Homo sapiens: one gene and its partners. The protein of the gene in region 1 purifies or fractionates together with the protein of each later gene. This does not show direct contact. Each region holds a gene or a part of one and is shown on either strand. Other genes may lie near its edges.

What was found.
Region 2: the proteins of FAM171B (region 1) and MIB1 purify together in Homo sapiens (affinity purification with mass spectrometry; 2 studies listed by BioGRID and IntAct, with this or other methods). This does not show direct contact.
Region 3: the proteins of FAM171B (region 1) and MFAP3 purify together in Homo sapiens (affinity purification with mass spectrometry; 2 studies listed by BioGRID and IntAct, with this or other methods). This does not show direct contact.

What each region holds. Positions count from the first base shown.
Region 1 is NC_000002.12:186,690,002-186,697,099, forward strand, and holds the start of FAM171B (protein FAM171B precursor), read left to right. Parts: upstream 1-4,058; 5' UTR 4,059-4,172; coding exon 4,173-4,410; intron 4,411-7,098.
Region 2 is NC_000018.10:21,862,789-21,869,902, forward strand, and holds part of MIB1 (E3 ubiquitin-protein ligase MIB1), read left to right. Parts: intron 1-1,737; coding exon 1,738-1,878; 3' UTR 1,879-7,114. UniProt on the Homo sapiens protein: E3 ubiquitin-protein ligase that mediates ubiquitination of Delta receptors, which act as ligands of Notch proteins.
Region 3 is NC_000005.10:154,041,919-154,049,032, forward strand, and holds part of MFAP3 (microfibril-associated glycoprotein 3 isoform 1 precursor), read left to right. Parts: intron 1-7,114. UniProt on the Homo sapiens protein: Component of the elastin-associated microfibrils.

The DNA of each region.
Region 1 (7,098 bases):
GTATGCAGGAAAATTTTTAAAATGAACCTGAACCTAGGTAGTCAGGGGACATATTGCAAACGGCTTTGTAAATCATGTTAGGAATTTTGGATTTGTGCTAAGAGTAATGAGGAGGTACCAGTAGGTTTTAAGTGGGGAAGAATTATATGTGTATAGTATTGTGCTTTGCTTTCTGATGGCTCTTGGGGCATTTTTCTAAAAATGATGAATTTCTAACCTTAACGATTACATTGTGTTTAGCATAAACTTTATCATGGACTATGTACCTGAAAATAACTTGCTGGATTAACTGGCATTTTTCATTCCTTTGTAAAACACACAGACAAACATTTAGGGCAAATGTAGTTATCAGCTTACATCTTCCTGAATGTCTGCCTATGTTTACTCCTGTCATTTGGTTGTGCCTGTGCCAAAAGTCAGTTATATTTTTCACAAACTTTTTCTTTTTTGCCAGTTATATGTGTGATAAGGAATATATACAATATGGATTTGAGATAAGTAAATTTTTCCTATTAAAACTAAGTTTAGGCCAGGTGTGGTGGCTCACGCCTGTAATCCCAGCATTTTCGGAGGCTGAGGCGGGCGATCACCTGAGGTCAGGAGTTCAAGACCAGTCTGGCCAACATGGCGAAACCCTGTCTCTACTAAAAATACAAAAATTAGCCAGGCGTGGTGGCATGCACCAGTAATCCCAGCTACTCAGGAGGCTGAGGCAGGAGAATCGCTTGAACCCAGGAGGTGGAGGTTGCAGTGAGCCAAGATTTTTCCATTGCACTCTAGCCTGGAAGACAAGAGCGAGACTCTGTTTCAAAAAATAAAATAAAATAAAATATAAGTTTAATACTAAGTATATGAGAAAATTCTACAAGCTTGGGAAAAAAATTGAACATAGAATGACTTGGCACTCTAATTGTGTGGCAAGGGTCTTTGAGAACTTCCACTTAAACTAAACCTGCAAATCATAGTGGTATATCATAACTGTGGTTTATGACTTCAAACTCTAGGATGTGGTTGAAATTCTTGGCCCTACATCAAAAGATTTGTGAACAAATATATATTTATTTATTCTAGGGTAAAATATGTGGCTTAAGATATATTTAGGATGTATTGACTTTGGTCTTTTGATGAACTTTTTTCATTTGCCAAGTACTATCCCCAATTGAATCGGATAATATGGCTTTTTTATATTGCACAGAAATTAAGCATGAACTACACGAATAATGAAGCACTTAAAAACTATTTAAATACTCTTGATTGACAACACTTACCTCTTAAAACAGTCCATAGTATTGAAAGATTTGAGGTCCACCCTCTACCAGGGTCCATGACCCAGTGGCTTTGCCTCCAGAAGGTCTGCTTCTACTATATTAAAAATAACTTGGCTACCCCAAGGCAGGATGACAGAAATCCTGGCTGCATTCCTTTCCTTCTGATCCACCAGTCAGGTTTTTGGAGCCATTTCCATTTTCTCCTTTCTTCTCTCCAGGAGCAGAGGTAACTTGGAAGAGATTGCCATAAAAACAGCTTGATGAAACTAATGGAAACTTGCTGCCTTCAGCTCTGGAGCCCCCTCCCCCAATGGCTCCTGCCTCACACAGACCAGGGAAAGAAAGTCCTGATGGAAGAATGATGTTTAGTGTGAGGGGCCTCACTTTAGTATCTATTTTCCCCAAAATTATGTGGTCCACATACCTTATTTTTGTTTTAAAATCACTAAAAAAGCAATACAAACTCATAGCAGAAGTCTCAAACGGTGCAGAAAGGTAAAGTCACACACTGTAAATGTAGCCTCTGGCAAGACATGGAGCCTCTCTGATCTCCAGTGTTTCCATTTGCTAAATAGGATAATGAGAGCTAATTTGTAGAGATGCTCTGAAGATATAATGAGATAATAGATGCAAAATACCTACTGTTATTTTATTTATGGTTATTGTGTCAGTCCATTTGCATTGCAGTAAACTTCGGGTGACATAAAGAAAAGCGGTTTACTTTAGGTCAGTTCTGCTGGCTGTACAACGCAAGTGTGGTGCTGGCATCTGCTCTGGTGAGACCTTAGAAAGCTTACAATCATGGTGGATGGTGAAAGGGAGACAGCGTGTCACATGACAGGAGAGGGAGCAAGCGAGAGAGAGAAGGGAGTTGCCACACTTTTAAACAACCAGATCTCTTGTGAGCTCAGAGCAAGAATTCAGTCATTACCATGAAGAGGGCACCAAGCCATTCATGAGGGATTCTCCTCTATGAACCAAAGACCTTCCACTAGGCCCCACCTCCAACATTGGAGGTCACATTTCAATATGAGATTTGGAAAGGACAAAACATCTAAACCATTAGTTATATATACACTATTTTCATTTGCTTAACCAAAAAATACTTTTCCAGTACTGAGAAGTTTGTTGTTTTCCAGCATATTGAAAACACTGGGAGGGACAAGGTAAGAATGATAAGGGTGGAAAAGGACAATGAACTACAATGGTAAATGGGGTGATGTCACAGCAGGTGACATTTATATTGCACTATGAGATGTCCCACAGTTACTCCAAATACAAAGAGACCACAACTGAACAAGGCAGGGCTCATTACTCTAGGCCAGTTAATGTTGATAAGGTCATAAGCAGCCACCTAAGATCTCAATTTGTCAATTTAGGTGTCACACTAGGCATATCTCCTCCTCTTCCAATTAACCGTATCTGTTTATTGTAGTCTTATATACTGTGTCTCCTACTCTTTTCTTCTCCTTTTCAGTTTCAATGACCTTTGGCATCTCCTATGGGTTTTGGCAAACACCTCTAAACTGGCATCTTCTCTTCCAATTTATCCCCCTTTAATCCATCTGCCATACTGAGAGCAAAGTGATCCTCCTAAAATGCACAACTGGTAGCAAGTTTCTTCCCTGATTAATTTCTTTCATTATCATCTACTGTGTGAATTTCAATTTCTGTATACAGCATCTAAGTTTATTACAGAAGTTAACAAATGTGAAGTACTTGAGCACACAGTAAGTACTATAGAAATGCTTGTTATTATTATTTTTTTAATGACCTGGTCTCCACTCTCCTTTTCAATCTAAAACACTGTCATTCCTCCATTAGAATAATTGCTCACACTTTTGCAAGCCCACTGTGCTTACACACATCTGGGCTTCACACACACACACACACACACACACACACACACACACACACTCTTCCACGTTCCTGATTTCTCCTGTGTGGAAGTCTTACTCTTTTTTATATTCTACCTCTCCTGGTGTTTCATAGCCCCTACATACACAAGATATTTTCTTCCAATTCTGAGACCTCTGGACTTGTATTGCTTTTCTGTTTGTAGCCACCACATTGGGTTCTAATTTGTTCCTGTGTTCCTCTCCCCTAATAGATGTTGAGCTCCTGGAATGCAGGGATTGTATTTTACTTATTCCAAGCACCTGAAGAAATGCTGGCACATGGTAAGCAACTAGTATTTAGTAAGATTTTTTTGAACAAATGAAAAGGATAGGCTAGAATTAGATAAAATGTAATTAAGAATATTTAATGATATGGAAAGAAATTCCCACTAGGGCAGAGAAAAGAAGTTTAGTCAAAATCTGGCGCGCTGCAGTTTAACTTCTAGCTAAGCAATGATGGCGGTGATGCAGCAAAGCCTATTTGTTTGAGATCCTGGCTTTTTGATCCGTTGGTGCCACCCACGCTATGTGCTGGATGGGGGTAATCAATATACCACCTTCTCTGCTACTTTGGGCTCAGGTGGAAGGAATTTTATTCCACTCTCTGCAAATCTTCCCGGTGCCTCAGTGGGAAGTGGACGCTGTGAGGGTCTACCAGCTCCCAGAAGGCCTCCCCTTTCTGTTTCCCCTAGGGCCCTCCACCCGGGCTGCAGCCCCAGCATCGCGTCCTCTCGGAGCAGCCTGGCCCCAGGTGGCTGCGGGGCGCGGGACCGCGGGCCCCGGCTCGCCCCTCCCCGCGCGTCACATGCGCGAGGATGCGAACTCCCCTTCCCTCCTCCTCCGCCCCCTCCGCCTCCCGGGCCTCTTCCTCCTGCCGGTGAGGGAGTGCTTGGCAGATTGCGCGAGGGGGAGCGAGCGAGCGGGCGCTGCCAGGAGCCCGCAGCCCTGGCGCCCGCCGCCGCCCGGAGCCCCGCAATATGCCGCCGCGGCCCTCTGGCTCTAGGCCATGGCGAGGCTCTGCCGGCGTGTCCCCTGCACCCTGCTTCTCGGCCTGGCCGTGGTGCTGCTGAAAGCGCGGCTGGTCCCCGCGGCCGCCAGAGCGGAACTCAGCCGCTCCGACCTCAGCCTCATCCAACAGCAGCAGCAGCAGCAGCAACAACAACAACAACAGCAAAAGCAGCTGGAGGAGGCTGAGGAGGAGAGGACAGAGGTGCCTGGGGCAACCTCCACCTTGACGGTTCCAGGTAGGTCCTGGCTGCCCAGCCCGGTCTTTCAGTCTCGGCCGGCGATCTCTTAGGGCCTCGCCGGCTTCCTCGCCCCTTCCCTATCCATTCCTATCCTCGTTCGTTCCTGTCACCATCCCTCCCGATCTCTCTCCCCAGACTGGCTGCCCAGCCTTTGGTCCCTTGATCTGGTGTCGGGAATCTGCCCTCCGGGTAATGAGCTTTCTGAGCAGCTCAGAGCACTGCGGTGGGTTGGAGAGGGGTCGGGAAGGCTGGGGGTGGGTGACTGCCTGGATTGATCTTTTTCTTTTCCCTCCCTTCTTCCTGAATTCTACCCTCTGCCCTGGGAATGACTGTAACACACACACACACACACACACACACACACACACACACACACACACCGTTCTTAAATCCCTTAAACATTTTGTTCTCTATCCTTTTCTCTCCTAGAGACTGAGAAATCTTGCCATGGACACCCACACACCCCTTTTCACCATTTCTCCATGCCTGCTATATTTAAATTTAGCCATGAAGAGAGAAATCTTTATATATTTTATTATTTATTTCTCTTTCTCTTTACCCCAGGAAGGGTTTAAGGGTTCATCTTATTGCAAAGAACTCTTTTAGTACAATAAGATGAAGCAAAACAAAACAGGAGTTTGTAATTGAAGGAAAGGGAAAAGGAGAGGGGGACACATAAGGTGAAGTCTGGAGTGGTGTTAGAACAGCAAAAGCCTATCCCTAGAGAGAGAAATCTCCTTACTTGTTAGTAGAACTTAAATGAGGCAGATTCTTGACACTGTTCAGTGAAGGTGTAGAAATACGGCTGTAGTATAGGTGGCTGTAACAGTTCCGCAGTTCCTCCCTCTTTCCCCCCATTAAAGCTCCATCGGTAAGCAAATAGCTAGATTATCCATGTATATTGCATCTCCCTACCCCGCAACCCACTTCGCTTCATGGCTGTAGATTCTTGTCTGCTATTTGGAAAGAAAAAAAGCCTCCAATTTTCTGGCACGAGGGCTTAGGTTTTGTGAAACCAAAGTGAATTTTATTATGACGTTTGTTTTTGTTTTAAAATCCTGCCTGGTAACACTATATGAGTGCTGAAAATGAGATTTGAAAGAGTGGAATCAGCATCACATTTTGTATTGCTTGCTCATCGTCAAAAAGCAGTACACAGGCATGCCAGCTGCGATTCATGACACAGCCAGGATGATTTAATTTATCAGAGTGCTCTGAGCATAGGATGAAATCACCAAAGTGTGCAGGAAAGCATGTGTTTCTGACACCCTCTTAAACCAATTAATAACACTCAAGTGTGGCTAAAAGTCTTGAAAGGTATACAGTGTATGGTGGTTTTCCTACCCAGCTTTTAATAACTGAAAGTGATAATATGGTTTGGGTGAGGCTGCTGTTAGACATACTGTTCGCTAAAGTTAAGGAAATTGGATATATCAGATTGATTGGCCTCATTAATAGAGATATTTCATAAATTCACTATGAAGCCGAAGTCTGGGAGAGTGTTGGTGGGTTTTATGGTTTGCAGTATATTTTTATTTCAATGGACCTTTCAGGAATATTAAATGAATTTTGACTACTGTAATATATATATATATGTTGTGATTAGGGTTATGAACTACTGCAATAATATGAAACCTGAATCCAGCATGCAAATTAAAATGTTTGCTTTCTGATATTTGTGAGGGAATATTCTGAAAAAGCTGATTGTCTGGGAAATTAGCAGTTTTTGTTTTATTTACCTATTAGATTGAGATAAAGGAACCACACTCTTCGATAGATCAAACTAGAACCTGAGAAGTAACCTATGATGATTCTTCTTCCTCAAAAACTCTAATTACCCAAGCCAGTGGCAAACAAGGGAGTAATTCAATTGATTGCTGTTTTAGTTATTGGAATATTGAGTCTTATAATGCAACACAGCTTATAGACAAATGAAGTTAAAATATTCCTTTGAATGCATTGTGATCTCTCCATTGAACTGGTCTTCCTGTTTCAACCTTTGTTTCCCTACTGTCTGTTCTCCTCACACAGCTAGCGATCTTTAAAAAAAAAAAAAACATTAAATAGGATCATTTCTGCCCACACTCCTCCAATGGCTTCCCGTCTCTCTCATACTAGATGCCCAGATCGTGAAAATGGCCTACCAAGGTCTAGATCCTTTGTATCCTCCTTTTCCTCCCGTCTCCTTTAGCCCTTACCCTAACTCTCTCCACTGTAGCCACACTAGCTCTATTTTCTTTAGCTTGCAAGTGGACCCAAGTGTTTGGCCTTTGCACTTGCCATTTTCTCTGCCTGGAATTCTGGAACTTCACATTTTTCAGGTTTGCTCAAGTGTCTCAGTAACTGACAGACCTTTTCCTGACCAGGTGTTTAAAATAGTAATCTGCACATCCTTTTTGCTCTTACCCAGATTCATTCTCCTCCATGGTACTCATTATTCTCAGCTGTTCTAATAAGCCTGTTTTTCCCTTGATAGAACATAAGCTCTGTGAAAACATGGACTTTGTTTTGTTCACTGCTATATTTCTAGTATCTCGAAGAGCACCTGGTTGGTACCCATAGACATTCAACCATTTGTTGAATGGATGGACGGATGGATGGATGGATGGATGGATGGATGGATGGATGAATGAATGAATGAATTCACTTTCTCAGCATTTGTTCGTCTTCATTGGATAAATTCTC
Region 2 (7,114 bases), on another chromosome or scaffold:
CTAAGCATAGTGCCTGACAAGTGTTCTCAGCTACTTCTCAGCACTGCTCCCCACCCTGCACCATGTATTGCATGATACATTGCCTTCTTTTTATGCAAGAGCAGCTGAGTACCTAGATTCAGGGAATTTCAGTTAGACTGAATGGAGCTATTTTCATCCATTTCCTATTACGTTTTGGTTTATATAGGTTTTTTTGTTTGTTTGTTTTGAGACAGAGTCCTTGCTCTGTCGCCCAGGCTGGAGAGCAGTTGATGCAGGATTTTTCTCAACCCCTTTGTCATACTTGCGACAGAGGTGCGCTGCTTACTTGGCCACTGTGCTCAACTGTTTGCGGGAGGGAGCACATGAACGAGCAATTGCAGGATCCATGCAGCGGCACCCAGGTGGGGGTGCCTGCGACTCCAAAGCCCCTGAGGGCATGTTAGAGTGCTCTCTTAGTTCTGCCGTCCACGGACAGCGGTGTGTTATCAGCTCAGTTGGCCCCTTGCCTCATAGTGTGGGGTAGCTGCCCTCCGCCAGTGAGGGCAAAGGGCCAGTGTAACAGCCTTATTTTGGGTACCCACACTCGGTGTGTCCCGAGCTCTTGTCCAGTGTTCAAGAAGAATGAGGTCACCTGGACACTTGAAGGATGGTGAAGGCAGAGAGTTTTATTAAGTGATGGAAATGGCTCTCAGCAGAGAGGGGAACTGGAGTGGGGGTGGGACGGGTAGGTAATCTTCCCCTGAAGTCCGGCCATCTCTTCCCTGAAGTTAAGCCATCTCTCCTCCGAAGTCCAGTCATCCCTTTGAAGTCAAGTTGCCTCTCTCCCCTCTACTACCTGGGTCTGGAGTCTTTAAAGGCACAACATGGGAGGAGTGGGCAGGGTGGGCTGTGGGTAGTTTTGGAAAAGGCAACAATCGATTGGTAAAAAGACATTATTTAGAAAGAACCAGTTGGGCTGGGCGTGGTGGCTCATGCCTGTAATCCCAGCACTTTGGGAGGCTGAGGTGGGCAGATCACGAGGTCAGAAGATCAAGACCATCCTGACCAACATGGTGAAACCCCATCTCTACTAAAAATACAAAAAAATTAGCTGGGTGTGGTGGTGCGCACCTGTAGTCCCAGCTACTCAGGAGGCTGAGGCAGTAGAATCACTTGAATCCAGGAGGCGGAGGTTGCAGTGAGCCGAGATTGCGCCACTGCACTCCAGCCTGGCGACAGAGTGAGACTCCATCTCAAAAAAAAAGAAAGAAAGAACCAATTGGGAGAGAGTGGGCAAGCAGGAATAGAAGTTCTCACTTTGGCCTGTGGGTTTCAGGCTTTTCAGCTCAAAGGTTGGGTTTCACTGGGGACCCACCCTTGTCTGCCTAGAATTTCTCTGCCTCCTGCCTCTATCACAGCGGCGCGATCTTGGCTTACTGCAATCTCTGCTGCCCGCGTTCAAGTGATTCTCGCGCCTCAGCCTCTTGAGTAGCTGGGATTACAGGTGTGAGCCAGGGTGTCTGGCTGTGTTTTATATATTAATAGTTTTTAATCTTATGTAGTACCTTTCATACTATCCTGATAGTACAACCAGTGTTTCTATTTTATTTTATAGGGATGACATTTTAACTATTTAAAAATGTTAAAAAATTGTTTTTAAAAACCACCAAAATATTATTTGACTAAAACAACTAAAGAAAATTAATGATATATAACAGTCTGTCACTTTCCAAATATAAAGTGTCTAATTTATTACTTTGTTATCTCACATTACAGACAATGTGCCCTGTGTGTCTAGATCGTCTGAAGAATATGATTTTCCTTTGTGGTCACGGAACCTGTCAACTCTGTGGAGACCGCATGAGTGAATGTCCTATCTGTCGCAAGGCTATTGAACGAAGGATTCTTTTGTATTAACTAAGACACATGGTGTATTTTGTTAGCTAATGTATCTAGTCATGAGATCTTAATAGGCTTTTGATCTAGTTGGAAGTTCTGATGAGTTAATTTCTAATATCATAGTTTCTTTACTAGAGTATAATTGGGCTGTAAATGTACCAGAACAAAAAACCCTACAAAATGGTGTTGGAAATTGTGTTTTTTGTTTTTGTTTTAAATTTGAAACATCAAATTCATGTAACTCATAGGATAATTTACCTTTGGCTTCTAAGAGGAAAGTCCTTTAAGGATATCCTTTTTTAAAAAATTGCATTTTTCTCTTATAATTTGTAAATTTGTTGGATCTCAAAAGACATAATTCTTTGTGATCAGTTATCCTTCATTTCATCGTGGTTTTACACAGTGAGTTGATAACAGGTTCTCTGAGAAGTCATGCATCAAATAAAAGAGGCAGGTCAAACAATTATGTCACATGGTAAATTATAAAATGACAGTACAAGTTCCAGATAGTTAAGGGAATACCGAAGGGATGATTCTTTTTTTAAGATAACAGGAAGTTACCCACATGTTTGTTTCTGAATTCTTAGAGTAAATGGAAGCATAGAATGAGGGAATAATGACTTTGCATTTCTCTTGTTTTCTAGATTCAAAAGGAACATTGTTTAACTTGAATCAGATTACCAGTTTCAAGGTGACTGATAGACAAGAAAAGGAAAAATAAGCAATAATAGTGGGCAACTGAAGAGAAAAAAAAAACGAGTATCTATTAACTGGCCACTAACAGTTGCCTTTCTTACATTAATTTATACACTATTTTGTTCAGCCAGTGTTTTTAAAAAAAATCTATGAAAAGTGTACTTCCGGTTTTCTGTGATTACTTATCTGGGCTTGATCTGACCAGTGAAATGACATTGCCCTATTTGGACCTCTGAGGTTCTATTTAGCTTTGCAGATGTACATAGTATCCCAGTGATCTGCAAAATTAATGCCTTTTCCAAGAAAAAATCTTTTCTTCTCTGTATCAGTTAATTCTGACAGTGTTAGTGATTCTGTCTTCATTATAGGCCTTATTTCCATTATCTCTTTCTTTATAGTATTTTTTGTTATAAAGAAAACAGTCTTTCTGTGTATACCTACGGATGAGGGTATTATTTAAACTGCCAACAATATCCAAGACATGGTCAATAACCTAATTATAAATACTTTAGAAAGAGTGACCAGGACATGTATAGAAATGTCTGCTTACCTGTAGACTTTAAAAACAAACAAAATTTTTGGAGCATTTAATCATTTTTTTTCTCCTTTTATCTCCTTTGTAATCTTATTGTCTCCTGAGTAAATATACACATAAATGTTTGGGGATTCATTGCTGCTAGATTATATCAGGTGTTTACATAGTGTCTACTATATGCTGTTGATAAGCTTTTTCCTAAAAATAGTTATCCTCTTTTGTAGTTTTTTTCCCTCCTTTAAATCTGGCTAGCTTTTCTTACTTCAGTTTTTATAGAACACCAACTAAATTTGAAAGTATGAAGTCTCTAGCCCTCTTACACTGTTTCTGGCTGTTTAATCCTTGCTGCCTTTGCAAGTCCTGGTGAAAGCAATGGGGAGCTTTGCTGGCTGGTTTTGTAGTCTCAACAATTCCATGTCTGTGTTTAGCTGAGTAACTGCTATCATTTAGAACAGTAAAATTTTTATAGATTTCAAATTTGAAAATTCATGTACACTCAGTTATCTAATAAGGGGCCACCGACGCTGTTTTTAAAACTATTTTGAAGTTATAAAAAGGTAGAACATCTGACTGATGATGTTCACATAAAGAGACAGACAGACTATCATGTTGCAGACATGAAAACAGCATGTCAGGTTTTTCCTTTCCTTCCATGCCATGGGCTACCCATCTCTTCCCACTAGATCACCTGGTGAGGAGGGAGCACCTGGCTGACTCATGCAGAGTTTGGCCAATCAGAGAATTGTGTGGTCTCCAGCTCTACTTTCCTTAAACAAATCCTTTCTGTTTTCTGAGCTGCAGTGCTAAAACAGATCCCTAAAAGGTAATAGCATCTTCCAGACTAGTTTAATTATTTCCTTTATAAGAATATGACATAAATTTTTATTATAGAAATAATGTCATTATAATTTTAGTGCTAGTACTTGTGGGTTTTCTGTATTTGTATCACCTTGAAATTTGTTCCATGAATAGAAAATACTTCTTTATTCATGTTTTCAATCACTTAGAATTATTTTAAATTTATTTTGGGTTTGTGAGAGATAATAAGATTAAGAACTTCATCATTTCAGTGACTTTCCTCCAACTCTCTGAATCTGCTACCTCTTATTATATGTCCCTTAGCAGTACTTTTCCAGTTAGGTTCGTTACCCTGCTCATTAGCTAAACCTCTTTATCTTGTGCCTCAAAAGAGCTTTTACTTTTCTTAGAAACATTTATAAAAAAGAAAAAAACTGACACGCATTCATTCAAAAAAGTATTTATTGGGCTTTAGGGATTAGATACACAACAGTGGAAAAATGGCATCTTAGCACACTCAGAATTTATTGTGCAGCAGTTGTGTATTTTAAGGAATCTGTAGTTAAAAGGAAGAGATCCAAAGGTCCTGATAACATTTCCTAACGTTTCAGAAGAGTTGTCATTGAGTAGTGTTTGGATTTCCTCTCTGTATCCCTCACCCTACCATTTTCTCCTTTATTCTTCTAAGATTGTTAGCGTTGTTACTCAAAACATACACATACAACATACCAGATGGTGCTGTTCTAATGGTATTTGTTCACGTAATTTAACGTTCTTACTGCTTATACTATATACATATTTAATTTTGTTGGGAGCAAGAAGGTTTTCAAGAAAAGATAATTTTGTATTAGTGTAGGAATATATTAGACAAATGTTTAGTTGGTCAAATTATGCATAAGATATTTGTAACTTTAAACATTGCAAATTGACCAGCTAGCTATGGAAGCATAAAATTAATTGATAATTAATGTTGGAAATACATTTCTAAAATTTATATTTTTATGGTGTTAGCCTGTAAGAGCATTTTAGCATATTGAAATGCATGCTGCTTAAGATGTGTCTGGTTCAAATATCAAAACTTGCTGGGTCATTTTTACATAGTAGAAACATACTGTCTATGTGTTGCCCAATTGCTGTTTGTCCACTCTGAATTCTGGACCCTTTTTGGACTAAGAATTAGTTAAATTCATGAACTAAGAGAATTAGAGATGGGGTAGAGTAGGATCAGGACAGTGGGGTTACAACAGATAGGAAAGGAAAGTCAGCATTTGAGTGTAGAGAAAAAAAGAGGATCATACAGATGTCATCAAATTATAGGCTTTAATACAGGTTGCTTTTTTTAATCCAAAAGGAAAAGCACTTATCCTATCAGAATGTCTACCATGTTTTATAGTAATAATTTGTGTAAAAAATTGAATTTTTGAATAGTTTTTTGTATTTTTTGTGATGAAAAACTCATAACATAAAATTTACCATATTAACTGTTTCTAAAGAATACAGTTCAGCCATGTGAAGTACATTTACACTGTTGTGAAGCAGATCTCCAGAACTTTTTCATCTTGCAAAACTGAAACTCCATACCCATTAAACAACTCCCCTTTTTGTTTTCTCCTCAGTGGAATAGAATTTTGACTCCATATAAATCAAGAAACACCTAAATTCTTTAGTTGTTTGTGTTTGCAAGATCTAAGGTCATGGTAAACATTAAGTTCTTAAAATTTTTGGGAGGGACAGTGCACCTCTCCTCTGAATTGTTAGCAATTAAATTGAGTAGGTTTTAAATGTCTATTCATTGGAAGGGTTTGTTATTTCATTTTGAGCCAGAGGGGAGAGGCACATTTTAAATATCAGAATTAGATTAGCTTTGAGTTTGTACAATTGGGAACATAATAGATTTTCATAAATTATGTGTGCCTTGTTGGAAGTGTCAACTGTCTTTATGTCTGCTTGTAAAAGTTTCAAAATATGTTTTCCCTCAAAAAGGCAACGTTACTTCATTTGCTTGAATATTATGATAGGAATGCTTACTGATATTACTTGATAGTCATATATAGCCTAGGAAATTTAACATATATATAACTATAGCAGTATTAATAATGATAGTTGTACTTCTTTAAAACATTAAATTTGAGGAAACTTTAATGCTGTCTCGTGTACATTGCTTTACTACAGTGAGGGGGAATATCCTTTAGATTGAGCCTCAATTTACTGGTTAGTAGTATGTGAAACTCTGGTATAAAAACGTAAACTAGACAGTAGAGCCGATGAATTAAAATTGTAAATTGCTACATTGGCATTTTCTACCTCCTTTTCTGTCAGAGTATTACTTTTTCCAGCATTTATTCTTATTTGTGAGTAAAGAGGAAATGGGAACCTGAGGTTAAAATTGACATTTTTGTTTCATTGAGAATTTAAGCAGTAGGTACAGGAGAAGTGACTTGTCACATTAATTTGGTGCCTAAATCTGTAACTACAAGTTGTGATCGACATGTACAAAATGTCTAAGAAAGGTCATATGCTGAATATTTTACTTTTCCTGTATAGTCTGCATGATTTGTTTCATAAACCCAGCTTATTTCCTCCAAAAAGCAAAATGGTCCTGTAATTTTTAAAGTAAAATAAACGTGCCATTTTGTCTGCAATCTATAATTTCAGGAAGTTATTGAAAGTTCTGACTCAGGGCTTTTTAACAGTTCAAGCAATTGTCAGTTATATTTTGGAAACTCCATCTGTGTAATTCTCCAGTGCCTTGAAAGAATTATTAACTTGGCAACACTATTAAAACTTTATAAAAGATGGTCTTTAGTGCACGTGTATCATTATATACACGTTTTAAAGTCATATTGCTTAGCTTGTTAATAATGATTCTGCATGTGTGCTGGGTTTGGGTAATTCTTTAAAGGAAGTTTTCTAGATTTGCACTTGATGTTTGTTTTTTAAAAACTGATTATTTATGGCCGTGACACTGTTACCAGAAAAGTAATTCTAATTAAGTTATTATGCAAAGTCATCTATAAGTAGCATCTGGGAAGAGGAGATCGAGGCCACAGTTTGCTATTTTAGTATGAAAGGAGGATCTGTTTGGGAAACATAGATTGTCTTCCCCTCAAATGAGGGGAAAAAAAAAAGACCCTTTGTTCAAATGGATTCTGTTGTAAAAAATTATTTTTAAAGGAAATCACAAATTGTATGTCATTCTTAATGCTAGTCTTATAGAATAAATCC
Region 3 (7,114 bases), on another chromosome or scaffold:
CTACCCTATGATGCAGTTACTGTTAATATTATTTTATTTAATAAATGTGAAAACTAAGGCCTTGCAAGCCTATGGCTTCACCCAGGGGTAGGATCAGGCACCTTAACTCTAGAGCCCATTCTCCTAACCACTGAGCCATGATTGTCTTACAATTTTGATACTGCAAAACTGGAAGAATTGTCTGGCTATTATCTAAGCTGTTCATAAGCTGAACAAGTAGATCTGAGGGTAAGAGGAGTTCTGTTTTAACTAGACTGAGTTTCAAATAGAGATGTTTCAGACTATAGAGGGGGAAAAATGGCCTGGGAAGATCATAAATCTAAGCCTGTTTCATTGATGTTTTTGTCATTTGCATCCAGTAGCTATTCAGCAAATATACCTATGGCAAAAAGGATATAAGTTATGGGTATAACTGAAATAATCCTGGGTTTAAAGCAAAGCTCTGATAAATACAGACGATGTTTCTCCAGGTGCCAGAAGATATGTTGAAGTTTGAGCTCAGACTGACCAAATGCTAGTTATGGGGTATGTGATAGCTCCAAGGTAGTAATATAAAGGCTATTTTAATTAGAAACTTTTGAGTAAATGGCCCTCAGGATAGTGATTTCTGTTTGAATGTCACTAACCTTTTTTAGTTACAGATCCCTATAATAATGCTTGAGTCTAGGCAGAACAACTTTGTGTTTATTCTTTGCAAAGGGTAGGGTAGTGCTAACAACCTGCTCTTCATTTGCTTTTTCTCCCCTTTGCCGATTCAGAATGCTGCTTTGTCAATTTGTGTGCCTGCTGTAGGAACTGGTCCGTTTTCCAAGTGTGACAGTGCAGGCAGAGAAGGGTGGATGAGCTGTAAATGCAGCCTAGAACACATTTGATTATAGAGAATGAAGCACTAATATCCCAATATAATTGGAGTTTAAAAAAAAAAAATACCACCTGGGCATCAATGTGTTTCCCTGCTTTGCATTTTCCCAGAACTATTTCTGCAAACATCAGTTTCCTCAGCCAACTTAATATTGAGTCACCAGAACGGAAATCAGCCATATTACTTCCTTATTTGTGTTGAAAATTGGAACAGAATGGAAATATTTCTTCCCTCAGAAGTTGGCAGGAACGGCAACAAGACAATCTGTTAGGGGTGACAGCTATAGGCTCTTCTCTTTTTTAAAAATAATATAGTCAATATTCAACATGGTTTTCTGGGGTAAAATCATCCACATTTCTGATTCTTTATGATCCTAGCAAAGCTTACATTCTGTATACCTGAAAGATGAAAAAGGAGTTGGATTAAACTTGAGTCTTACACTTATCTATTACATTTTTATTTATTAATGCTGAAGAAAGGTAATATAGGCTGGGCGCGGTGGCTCACGCCTGTAATCCCAGCACTTTGGGAGGCCGAGGCAGCCAGATCACCTGAGGTTGGGAGTTCAAGATCAGCCTGTCCAACATGGAGAAACCCCGTCTCTACTAAAAATACAAAAAATTAGCCAGGCGTGGTGGTGCATGCCTGTAATCCCAGTTACTTGCGAGGCTGAGGTGGGAGAATCGCTTGAACCTGGGGGGTGGAGGTTGCAGTGAGCCGAGATCTCACCATTGCGCTCCAGCCTGGGCAACAAGAGCGAAACTCCGTCACACACACACACACACACAAAAAGGAAAGGTAATAAAAAATTTTATCAAGTAACTTCATCCACAAACATAGTATAGCCCTTTTTAACTGATAAGAAGAAGGTGACACTTTGGTTTTCCTTTTTGAAATCTGTTCTTGGGTTTCAAATGTCAGCTGCTACATTAAAAACAGCAGGCATAATATATATATATATATTTTTTTTTCCAAATACAAATGCACGTACTCTTGTGTCTCCCATGGCATCTAATATACCTGCCTTAATGACCTCAGCCCACTTAACTGATTTGGTGAACAATTCTGCATCTGAGGCTGTATATGTGAGGAAAAATTAAAGGATTGGAAATGAAAGTAAAATAACTATAGTATAAAGGATCATATGTTCAAAGCATGCAGGCCTAATATTATAGGAAGTCCCAAACATATAAGTGAATTGCATTCCTAGAACTGACACATTTGTCTTTTCTCTGTTGCATTCACAATATAATTACATTTCAGTCACATTGTCTTAGATACAGTTGGCTGTTTCTGGGCTGTCTTTCAAGCTGGTTTGTAAATTCCTGAGGGTCTAGGACAGTGTCCTAATTCTCCTTAGCAACTCTTGCACCACCTACTGTACTTCATCTTCCACGATGGATCCTTGACCTAGCTGAGCTGTAGTTTTAAAGTCATTAGTCTAGAATGAGCAGAATGGTCATAGTCAATGCAGTTTGTGCTGCAAGTAGCAGAAACCCATTCAAGCTGACTTAGCAAAAAGGAGACTTAGTGTGAGGAAATAATAGTACCCTGATACCAAGGATGATTTGTTCTTCCCTCACTATTTTTTTCTGCTTTGTCACCTTCTTGGACACGTATCTTTGCCAGTGTTTTCTCTCACAGCTGCTGAACAGCCTGTTACCTGCAAATGGGTTATATCCGTTAGTCTTTCAAATCAGAAGTCCTCTGTGTTCAGGATGTACATGGTATGAGTGAAGTGCCCAGTATTAACTGGATGTGTAAGGCTATTGTGCAGCCTCTTTCTCTTGTGGCTCAAAATCAGTGTGCCAGGTTTCTTCTGCCATGTTTGGCCTAAGAGCAGTTTAAGGGAGTTTATAGTGTTTTCCTAAATCCTGTCTGGTAGGTAGAGGCAAATGGCTATGTCTGTACAACACAAGAACCACAAATCTTGGCCACATGGGCAGTTTGCTTGCCACACTCCACTGTGTAAGGAAGAGACTAGAGATCTATGATGAAGATTGCCTGGCAGCCACAGACACAGTTCAATAACTTTTTGTGAACTTAATCTTTTTTCTCCTGCCTAACCATTTCCGCATTTATTACGTGTTTGCACATTCATCTTCACTTTTGTGGTTTTAATTTTGAGTAAAATTTAATAAAGTTGTTTCTTTTTTTAAAAAAAAAAAAGGGTCACAGGAGTGCCAGGAAGTAGAATTCTATCAGGCACCAAAGCACCATGTATGAGTCTCTCTTTGTCTTTCTCCTGCTCCTCTTCCTGTCTTCCCACTCTCTCCCTTCCCCATCCCTCTTGTCCTTTCTTACAGCTTCTCCTTGTATGTGGCCCAAACCTGACTGCCTCAGCCCCCACATGCCTCCTTTTCCTCAAATGACCCTGACCCACAAGGGTCTCAATTCCAAGTTCCAAGAACAAAGATTCTATTAGCTTACTTTGCCAATAGGTTGTCTTCCTCCTAGACCCAAGAAGATAGGGATAGGGCTCAAAGAGGGGAGCCGTTGGGTAAGTAGATCACGACAAATCTTCTCTACCACAAACTGAGGACACATACAATGTCATATCATGGTTGGGATCCAAGCTCAGTTTACAATGCCTATATGCTCCATAATATTGCAAAATATTTGCAATGAGAAAAAGAAAAATGTGAAATTTTAAATTTAAGATTAAAACTGCATAATGGTGTCCCCTTCCCCCCAACCCCCAAGATTTTTAAATGGTTGCATGGTATTCTGAGTGTTTTATAATGATGTAACTATCAAATGTAAATTTTAGTTCAATATCTGAAAGAACCATGAACAATAATAATAGAGCTTATTCAGTGATTACCATTGCCAGACTCTGTGTTTTATGTATACTACCTCATTCAGACTTTGCAATAATCCTGTGAGAATAGATTCTGTTATTTTGCCCATTTTAAAGATGAGGGGCTGAGGCAGGGAGATTAAGTCATTTATAAAAGTTGCAAGGCTGGTTAGAGTCACAGATCGTATTTGAATCCTATACTCTGAACCTCTCTGCTACCCTGCTCTTATTAGAGACCTTCAATTTTGCTGATCTAGAGTAATCTAAATCTAGAATGGAATGTGAGTGATTATATCTCTCATTGGAAATATTCAAATAGCCTGAAGCACCATTCTGCAGGTCAGTTGCAGAGGAAATTGAGGAACTGTATTAGTGGCCCTTAGATGCAGTACATGAATCCAATGCCTCAGAAACACCCAGGGAGCCAATTAAAAGTCATAAATTCCAAGGCGCAAACACAGAGTTTCTTACTCGTTCTGGGTTGGGACCTGGGAATCCATATTTTTAAAAAGCTCTCCTGACAGTTGTGATATTCAACCTGGTTTGGAAACTGCACTTGGTGATCTTTTATTCCTACCATTATCCTCTAGGACAACATGGTAAATGAAGGTATCAGGTTGGGAGTCGGAAGAATGCATTTAATTAGGTACTTTTAAGGTCTTCCAAGATTGTTAGCATTGACTGTTTTTGTTTCAGAGAATTTATAATAGGCAACTGTATGTCAGTTTGAACAATTATAATCCCTGTTGCATAACATTATTCAATTTATAAAGATCTGTCACATACTGAATCAAATTTAAACTAATCTCCATCAATATTTATTGAGCATGTGCTAGTTATGACGTACAGCAATAAAAAATATAGGCCTTGTTCTTAAGGGGTAGTTGAGATGGGATAGACTGCCTAGCAGTACAGAGCAGCATATACCAGCGCCAGATGAGTACGGTAGGTGGGGAGGGCTCTGGGGTGAAGGAGAAGCCATCCTTTATACAGCTATACTCTGAATTTATGTAGGAGGAATAGCTAAGGCCTTGATAGGAGGTTCAGGAAGTTTGCGGGAAGGCAGAATTCCATGTGGGAGTTATGCTTTGCCAAGCCTTGTGTTGGTGAGGACACTCATTGCCCTGCAGCCCTCGCCTGTGACAGCTGTTCATTCTGCTGAAGTTCCTGAATCTCAGAGCAGGAAGACCGAATCCATTTCCTTTCTTTCCAGTTTCTTCTACACTAGCTACTTTGATCCTGGGGGGATGTGACCATACCCCCAGGTGATCTGCCCACGTTTGAGCCTCTCAGTTGTTTGACGTCTTCATCATGGACGAATATCTCCCTCACTCACTTCAGCCACTGCAGCTTCCGGAGTCTATCTCCAGTTTCACCATTGGCCCAGTTAGTTCTCCTCCAGAATCAGGAATCAGACGCAGCATTTTTGGCCACTGCCTGTCTTTACCACAATTTTTTAGCTGTTTTTTGTGAACAACTCCTGACCAGTGACCCCTCTCATTTTTCCCTGTCTCCTGGCCCTCTACCTTGAGTGCTTTCCTCCCAATTTTTATTCCTCTTTATTCTTCAGGTCCTGCACCTGAAGAATAGGTGCTGCACACCTCTTTTTCTCAGAGGCTTTCCATGATGAGATTAACTCCCCATGTTGGGTCCTCCTGTAGCATCTGTATTTTCCCTTGGGTAACATTGAGTTTATTTTGTATATATGTAGTTAGTGTCCATCATCTGCCAGACTGAACTTCGTGGAGGCCGAGACAATGTCTATGGGGCAGTAGGTAGGCACATGGTAGGTGCTCAATAGATACTGTTCAGTATATGAAAATGTATCCCTCCGATCTCAAACTCAGTGGTGGGGAAGAGTAGAAAGGAAGGAGATGGCAGGTTAAGAAATGAGGTGGCATTAAAATAAACTGGAGTTGTGGGGGGCTTTTTGTTTTGGTTTTGGTTTTACTACAGAGAGAGCAAGCCTCCAGCTCAAAGCCTTTCAGCAGGCAGTAGTATCTCTGGAAGCTAATAACACTTCTTTGTTTTCATTATGTTTATGTGTACGGTTACATTTGTCCACAGAACTGATGTAGAGTTTCCTTTTTAAATAAATGTGAAAGTAAAAATAAAATGAGTTGATTTAAAAGAAAAGCAGAAATGACGATAATTTGGTTCATGGATATAGTAAAAACAACAACAACAAAAAAGACAGGAGAAGGAATGAATGAAGTTTGGGAAGTGCTGCCCTGGATGAAGCTATAGGAACTCCTAATCAAAGTTCTGGAGAAAGCCTGGAGCATTTTTTCAGCACACTCATAGCCTGTCACCGTTGAGAACCACTAATCTAGAATAAAGTACAAAATTATGTCCTCCAATTGCTGTATATCTTGCAGTGAAAAAGAGCTTGGAAACTTACATGTCAAGCCCCTAGCACAGTGCTTGGCTGATGGCAGTCATTCAATAAATGTTATTTCCATTGTTTCTACCCATCACCCCCTCTTAAAAAAGAGACTGTATTCCAAACTAGATTCTCCTACTAACTTGTAGCATGTCGTAAGAAGCAAATCACTGTGCACTGAATCAATTAGATTATATTACTTCCAAAATCCCCTCTCTGCCTAAGTCTTTGTTTCCTTTAGTGTCCTTTTTGTGCGGTTTTAGGAGGAAATGGAAATAAACACGTTTAGTGTGTCATGTATTGCCAAAGTCTGAAGGTTTTTTATTTTACTCTGTATACCCCATCCTTAAATTGTAAAGATTTAGAAAAGTATTTGTCACCATTCAACCATCCTTTCAAGGGTTAATTAATGAAAATTAAATGACATTTGCACCGTATTGTAATTTAGACTTTGAGATATTTAATGGCAAAATACAGTGATTCATTGTTTTTTATGTTCTGTGATCAAGCAGCCTTCATATAAATATAAAGGAGAGTAAATGTCATTTCCAAAACTAATTATCTTGGTGCTTTATAAGACATAAAGCTAGGCATTTCATCCCATATTTTATAGAAATAAAAGTTGAATTTTTTCTTTGAGAGTTGGTGGCTTAAAGGGGGAGTCAAATTACCAGGAAGGTGATCATAAATACATAGACTTTTGGACTAGGATGTTATTTTGCCTTTTATTCAAGATATTTTGCTCTTCTTTTAAATGTGTCTAACAATCTGTCCCTGTAGTTTTATATTTGCATTTCTACTAACTAGACACTTAAGATGTCAGTTCCTCCCTTAGCTAGTTTACAGAGTTTGAGCTAGAAATTTGGTATGCTTACAAACTATTAAATACACTGTACTTTGTCTCTTCGTATTGGAGAAACTATTAAAAGAAAATTCTGTTGTCTAATGTTCTTGCCCATGAAGGAGGTTCCATAGCTTTAGAAGTCAATAACTCTATTTATGTGTATGCAGTAAGTGCAGCTTTCTTTCCAGTGTTAAAACAACCCACCTCAGGTGTCCCTGCATTATT